2 linked regions of the Homo sapiens genome follow. The protein of the gene in region 2 interacts with the protein of the main gene of each other region in a pairwise test. Each region holds a gene or a part of one and is shown on either strand. Other genes may lie near its edges.

Region 1 (3,816 bases), about 150 Mb from region 2:
CCCTGGGCACCTGGCTCCAGCCGCCCCTCCAGGAGCTCTTCACACTCCACTGGCACATCATGCATGTCAACTGCAGTGAATCATCCAGAGAAATCCCAACTGCAACTCCAGGCCTTTGCAAGTGCAGTGGCTTCTGACTGGAATGCCTTTCCCCCACCTCTTCACCAGGTAGTTCCTCCTGTTTAGAGACCTGATTGGATGCCTCCTCCTCTCAGAGTCTCGTCTGACTCCCACACTGTATGGGAAACTCCTGAAGGCAGCCTGAGCCTTATACATCTGGGCATGGTGCCTGGCACAATGGACTGTTCATAAATATTCACGTGATACTCAACGAGAAAATTGCAGCCTGGACAGCAAAGGGCACAGGTCCAAGCACTCCTCACCAGTGTTCGGAAATGCAATACAGAAGCATTTCATAACCCCCAGCTGTGAGCAGGCCCCAGCTCAAACCCCCAACCATGGTCAGGTGCAGGCGTGGCAGCCGTGGCATAAAGGAAAGGGGAGGCATGAGCTACTCCAGCGGACCAACTCGAAAGGTGGCTTCTGATCACAACCCAGGAGAATAATTTCATATCAAAAACCAAGTACAGGCATACACATCCGTAACACACACAAGTTTCATGAAGCAATACTCTTACCCTCACTGCGCGCATGCAATGCCTTCCTTTCTGTATTCTACTCTTTTTTTCCCCATAGATTTGTGTAGAAAAGTATTATTCTTTGAATGCTAATTGCAACTCAGCGAATTGAGTTCATGGTCCTCTAAGGTATAGCTGCCCACAGTTTGGAAGACAGGGACAATCCAATTCTAATTGTCCTTTGCAACAAGGTAACTGTTTGTTCTTCCCTCCCCTGGATGAATAGGAACACATTCCGGCTGTCTGCAGACTAACCGCCTGCACTTTCCTTACATTCAGTAAGCTTCTGGCTTCAACGCCTCCCTGGAGCTGTTCCCTTGGGCCTGAATGCTATTCCCTGCCTTTATGCCTGGACAGCACCTACTCATGCTTCAAAGAGCAGCTTCAGCATCCCCCCACTTCCAGGACTCCTCTCCTGGCTCCAGACCAGGTCGGGGCTCCCAGTTATGCACCCTACATGTTCTGTGTGCGTGTGTGCAGGCATACGTGTATATATAGGAGAGACACACTGAGACATTCTCTTCTAGTCCAGACTATGAGAGCATGTAACACATATAACATGAGACCCAGCACCTAGCACCGTGTCAGACACATGATTATCTGTGTAATGACTGAGTAAGCAAATTCAGAGATGTGCTCTCAAAGCGATCTGGCAGCAAGTTACTTCCTTCATGCCTTCACTGACCTTGACTCTGACATTGTTCTTCATACCAGGATTTTTAGAGACTTCTCACTTCATCCAAACACCCCAGCTGGCAGTGCTACTAGTGTGCAGCCACCATCAGGGAAAAGCTTTGGATTCTATGCAAAACAGGCCCTCAGGGTTGTAACAATGTGGGGGCCTGAGTGGCAAGGGGCCCAGGGCTGAAGTCAGAGCCCTAGAGGAGACTCCTGGCTACCTAGATGCATCTGGGAAATTAACCCCTGGGCCTTGCTCGGCTGTTACCTGCAATACGGGGTTACTAGCACTTAGCTTGCAGGACCTGCTATGAGGAGGCAGTAAGAGAGTCTCAAATATAGTCTCACCTGCACATGCTCACTATTTCTCCTCCTACCCTATACACACCACACACTTGCGCAAGCACAGACTCGGTATTAATAAAAGACAGGATGAACAGAGGAGGAAAAAGGTGATTTTCTACAACGCTGGAGGTGAAAGGAGGCTTGATTGGGGAAACCAAGGCCAGGCCGGGAATCCTGCATCTCCCCAACCAACAAACCAGAGAGACGCCTCCACAACCCCATTCACCACCTCCCCAGCCCTCCCCTCCCTGGAAGGCAGAAGCCAGTAGGGAGAGAGATGTCACTGCTTTACAGAGGCGACCAAGGGGGATCCTGTAACATCCAAGAGCCTTGGAAGTGGACCCAGCTGAGCAGTGGGCGAGGTGGGCTACAAGGGTCTGGAGACCAACAGCAAGGCATCCCCAAGCACAGGAAAAGTGGCTCCGCAGTTGCAGATAAGGCTGGCAGGCTCTCCCTCCCTCTCTGAAGATCTGACCTCTCTCAGTAGCATCGAACCCCAAAATACCCATCTGGGGCTCCTCTCCTAGTTTATCACACCACTCCTCCCCCAAGCAGTGTCTACGCGGACAACAGGGCTCTGCTTTTCCATTCTTATGGGTGGAGAACATGGCAGTCTCAGTGTCTGTCATTTCCCACGCACCCTCCCTATGCCTGCAGGTCTCAGTCCAGGAACCTCACCCTGCTTCAGCCACGGTGTCCTCACAGCCTTTAGACCACAACAGGGAACAAGACGGGTGTGAGGCAGGGACCCCAAGTAGCACCAAAGAGAGGCAGGTCCCTTCCACCAACTCAGTTTTCAGCATAATGTAGACAGTGTATGTGACAAGTACTGAAATCACTGAATTGTCATCATCACACGGTGAGTGCCAGGAACCCACACTCAACTTCAGAACTGCCACAGGACCCACAGGGAGGCTGCGTCCTGGGCTCTGTCCTATCTCCCACCCCGAGGCAACCAGTAGCTTGAATGTTGTGTTTCTCATTATCTTACCATGGCTATGGGTAAAATTCAGTTTTGTCACACAAGCACATATCCCTAATAATATCCTATTTATTTTGCATATGTGTGAGCTTAACCAGAAGCACATAAGTCAGAAGCGCATAGTCATCTGGAACTTATTTTTTCACTCGATATTTTTTTCTCAGATTCCCCTGTGCTAGGAATCTATCTGGCAACCACATCGCTGGGCTGTGGGGTCTATATGTGATCAGCTTTCCAAGATAATGCCAAATTGTTTTCCAGGGATTATTCTGTGTCTATCTGAGACCTTTAAAGTTTAATCGCCAGAGGCTTTTAAGGATTAATTTGGGCCACACCTGCTCCCCCACATCTACATGTGGATGTTGACAAAGAGCCTGGGACAGCCAGGAAAGCAGTCCCGCTGCTGCTGCCGCTGCCACGTGGGGTCGCTCCTGGAAACCACCTGCCTCAGCACCCCTCCCAACCCTGCCCCTGAGGAGGCAACCACTGCCCATCTAACTGGAGCGCACCTGACTGGAAAGACACAGCAGGACTGGCTGGTGGTCACCAGCAAAACCTATTTCCAGGATTCCCCAGGCCCAGAGAAAAGGGAAAGGTCCCTCTGGCCATCACAGGAACGTCACTGCCCTGAGACCTTACAAACACAGCCCTCTCCCGAGGGTGGGGGGCGGGGGAGTTGGGAGGCATAGCCCCAGAGAAACAGCTAGGCATTAGTGAGTCTACTAGAGAAACACATCTTCCGCCTAGAACTGGAACTCATAACTTAAGTCCAGGCCCACCCAGTAAGAGCAAAGAACAAGGACAGTCATGGAGCTACACAATTGCTAAAGACCCCTGTGCCAACCACACTCTGGGTCAGGATATCTCACAGCTGCACACATCCCAAACGCATAACTACTGACGAGGCCGCCCAGGGGTCACTCTGACCTCCAGTTTGTTTTCTCCAAAGGCCACTGGGTGGCATAAACCAATTTCCTTTGTTGCCTGTATGAGGTACAAAAAGGAATTGCACTGCAAGAGCATCTATGGAGGCTGGAAGACTCCAAATGGATAAGTGAACACAGGAAAAATGTCTTGGGCATTCCAGGGACACTAAGTATTGCTGGTCTGCAGAAAGGGAGCATTCCCGGCAGTACTCCTGTGGGCTGAGCTGTCTAGAGTGGCCACTTGGAA
Region 2 (3,828 bases):
ATCATAATAAAACAATTTTAAAGCTATTAAAATATTCCTTCCTTTTCCAACTACAAAAAAGTAAAAAGGTCCAGGCGTGGTGGCTCTTGCCTGTAATCCTAGCAATTTGGGAGGCCAAGGCGGGAGGATTGCCTGAGCTCAGGAGTTAAGAGATCAACATGGACAACATGGCAGAACACTGTCTCTACTAAAAATACAAGAAATTAGCTGGGTCTGGTGGCAGGCACCTGTAATTCCAGCTACTCAGGAGGCTGAGGCACAAGAATTGCTTGAACCCAGGAGATGGAGGTTGCAATGAGCCAAGATGGCGCCACTGCACTCCAGCCTGGGTGACAGAGACTCTGCCTCCAAAAAAAAAAAAACAAAAAAACAAATACGGTCTTAGGTGAGAGTTTTAAAATACATTGAGTTAGAATTAGATATATACAACAATAATATCAAGTAATGAGGGAGACCAATGAAAGTCACCTGAGGTCCTTATGTTGTCCAGGAGGAGGATAAAAGTATTTATTAGTTAACTCTAGACTTCAGTAAGAATAGAGAGTGTTTAACTTTCTAACTAGGAGAAGGGGGGAAATGAAATGATTTGTTTTAAGTTGCTCAATCTCAAAGAAGGGGAAAAGGAGAGAAAAGGGAGGAAGAAAACACAAACACAAGTGAGACAATATGTAGCATAAAATAAGATGGTAGATTTAATTACATTAAATACACAATGGACAAAATGCTCCAGTTAAAAGACAAGGTGTGTTTTATATGCTATTAACAAAAAAAAAAATGAAATTAAAAATACACAATTTACAATAGACTAAAAGAAACATAAAATATTTACAAATCAAACTTAAGATAAGCAAGACCACAATGGACAAAAATATAAAATCCTATTGGTAAACCTTAAAGAAGACCCAAATGGAAAGAGAGGTAAACCATGTTCATGAATCAGAAAACTCAATATTGTAAAGACGTCAATTTTCCCAAAACTGATTGATAGCTATAATAAATTCCCAAACTATCAAGTGCATCATTGTTGTTGGAATTGACAAGCTGATTTTAAAACTTATATGGGAGAAAAACCTTACATGAAAATACAAAGAGCCAGAATAGTCAAGACACTCTCAAAGAAGAAAAATAAGGTGGAAAAGACTTACTTTATCAGATCTCAATACATAATTGATAATAATGAAGACAGCTTGATATTGGCACAAGAACAGACAGACTAATGGAACAGAGGAAAGAATCCAACAACAGATCTACATATGTCATATGTGGACATATGACAGAGGTGGCATTGCAGATGGGCGCAGAAAGTTAGATTACAAACAATGATAGGACAGGTGTGTAACCCTATGGAGAGAAAAAAATGAAAGTGAATCCTTACCTCACACCATATGCAAAAAACCAAATCTAGGTGAATTAAAGGCCTAAATATGAAATTTACATTTATAAGGATTTCAGAATATAATCTAAGAGACTATCTTCATGACCTTGGAGTGGAAATAATTTCAGTGGTTTTCTTTTTTTTTTTTTTTTTTTTGGTTTTTTTTGAGATAGGGTCTCACTCTGTCTCACAGGCTGAAGTGCAGTGGCACAATCACAGCTCACTGCAGCCTTGACCTTCTGGGCTCAAGCAATCCTCTCACCCCAGCCACCTGAGTAGCTGGGACTACAGGCACGCACCACCATGTCCAGCTAATTTTTGTATTTTTTGTAGAGATGGTGTTTCGCCATGTTGTCCAGGTTGGTCTCAAACTCCTGAGCTCAAGTAATCCTCCTGCCTCTGCCCCCAAAGTGCTGGCATTACAGGTGTGAGCCACTGTACCCAGCCTGGAAAGAATTTCTTAAGCCACAAAAAGCACTAACCAAAATGAAAACACTGATCAATTCAACTGCATTAAAAATAAGAACTGGCATGCACAGTGGCTCATGCCTGTACTCCCAGCACTTTGGGAGGTCAAGATGGGAGGCTCATTGAGTCTAGGAGTTTGAGACCAGCTGGGGCATAGTAAGATCCTATCTCTAAAAAAAAAAAAAAAATTATCTGGACATGGAAGTGCGTGACTGTAGTTCCGGCTACTCAGGAGGCTGAGGTGGGAGGACTGTTTAAGCCTAGGAATTGAGGCTGCAATAAGCCAAGATTGTGCCATAACACTCCAGCCTGGGTGACAGAGCAAGACCTTGTCTCAAAAAACCCCCCCCAAAAAAAAAGGACACCATAAACAGTCAAGCCAGAGTTAGAGAAGATATTTGCAATACACATTATGGATAATATCAAGACTATACAAAGAATTATTAGATTAATAAGAAAAAATCTGGTAGCTCACGCCTATAATCCCAACTTTGGGAGGCTGAGGCCAGCAGATCGCTTGAGCTCAAGAGTTTGAGAGCAGCCTGCATAACATGATGAAACCCGTCTCTACTTAAAAATACAAAAAATTAGCTGGGCTTGGTGGTGTGGGCCTGTGGTCCCAGCTACTTGGGAGGCTGAGGTGAGAGAATCACCTGAGCCTGACTCAAGGCTGCAGTGAGCTGAGATTGCACCACTGCACTCCAGCCAGGGCAACAGAGTGAGACCCTGTCTCAGAAAAAAAAAAAAAGAAAAGAAAAAGAAAAAGACAACAAGTTAAAAAATGGGCAAAAGATGATAGACACTTCACAGGAGACAAAATCAAAATGGTTAATAAAAACATAAAAATATGCTCAATCTCCTTGGTAATTAGCTAAATGCAAATTAAGGCCATAACTATACACCCCACCAGACTGGCAAAAGTGAAATGTCTGCCAAGGATGGGAAGGCAAGGGAATTCTGTTTTACTGCTGGTGGGCACGTAAACTAGAACAATATTTAGAAAGATCTTCATACCCTAGAACCCAGGAGTCAGACTCCTGAGTACAAACCCTAGAAAAATTTGTGCACCATTTGCAAAAAACACACGTGCATCAGAGACATGGACAAAACTGTTGCTAGCAGCATTGTGTGTAGTTACCCCAAACTAGAAACAAACCAACTGTCCATCTACAGCAGGCATGTCCAATCTTTTGGCTTCCATGGACCATACCGGAAGAACTGTCTCGGGTCACGCATAAAATACACTACCACTAACTATAGCTGATGAGCTAAAAAAAAAAATCGCAAACAAAAATCTTTATAATGTTTTAAGAAAGTTTACAAATTTGTGTTGGGCCACATTCAAAGGCATCCTGGGCTGCATGCATTGGACAAGCTTGACTGACAGTGAAATGAATCTGTGAACTACGATACAGCCAAACAATGGAAGTTTTTAGCAATGAACATGCACAAACTATACTACGCACAGCAACATGAATAAATCTCACAGACATAATAACGAGCCAAAGAAGCCAGCTGCCAGAATTTGCATCTGTATGATTCAAGGGGATAAAGCACAGAAACAGGAAAATACTGCAATGCCTGCATAATTGGGTGCTGAAGACTTTTTAGAAAAACAAGAACACAAGACTCACATAAGCCAGGGCAGAGAGGCCGGAAGTGACACTGTGAGGGGAGGGCACTTGGGTGCTGGCAAAACTATTTCCTGATGGTGGTTGCAGATCGTTCACTTCCTAACAGTGTGTTAGGTTGTGCATTTATGTTTTATTCACTTTTCTGTATGTTGTTTTATTCTGCAGGAAATGAATGAAAAAGGGATTCTGCCTCAGCTCTGAGCCCCTCAGAGTGGGGCCAGGGAAGAAGCAGACGGCAACGCCAGGGCAGCTGTCTGGCAGCCTGGAAGGCCTGCGAAGCTTCCTAGGGGTCCGAAGGAGGGTAGACAGGTAGGGGTCTGCTCTGTACCCATCAAATCTCCCTCCAGTGAG

Evidence for each region.
Region 1: the proteins of SH3BP2 (region 2) and ARHGAP10 interact in a two-hybrid assay, tested with the Homo sapiens proteins (one large-scale study listed by BioGRID and IntAct).

Annotation. Positions count from the first base shown.
Region 1 is NC_000004.12:148,067,482-148,071,297, reverse strand, and holds part of ARHGAP10 (rho GTPase-activating protein 10), read right to left. Parts: intron 1-3,816. UniProt on the Homo sapiens protein: GTPase-activating protein that catalyzes the conversion of active GTP-bound Rho GTPases to their inactive GDP-bound form, thus suppressing various Rho GTPase-mediated cellular processes. Also converts Cdc42 to an inactive GDP-bound state.
Region 2 is NC_000004.12:2,837,938-2,841,765, reverse strand, and holds the end of SH3BP2 (SH3 domain-binding protein 2), read right to left. Parts: 3' UTR 670-3,828; downstream 1-669. UniProt on the Homo sapiens protein: Binds differentially to the SH3 domains of certain proteins of signal transduction pathways. Binds to phosphatidylinositols; linking the hemopoietic tyrosine kinase fes to the cytoplasmic membrane in a phosphorylation dependent mechanism.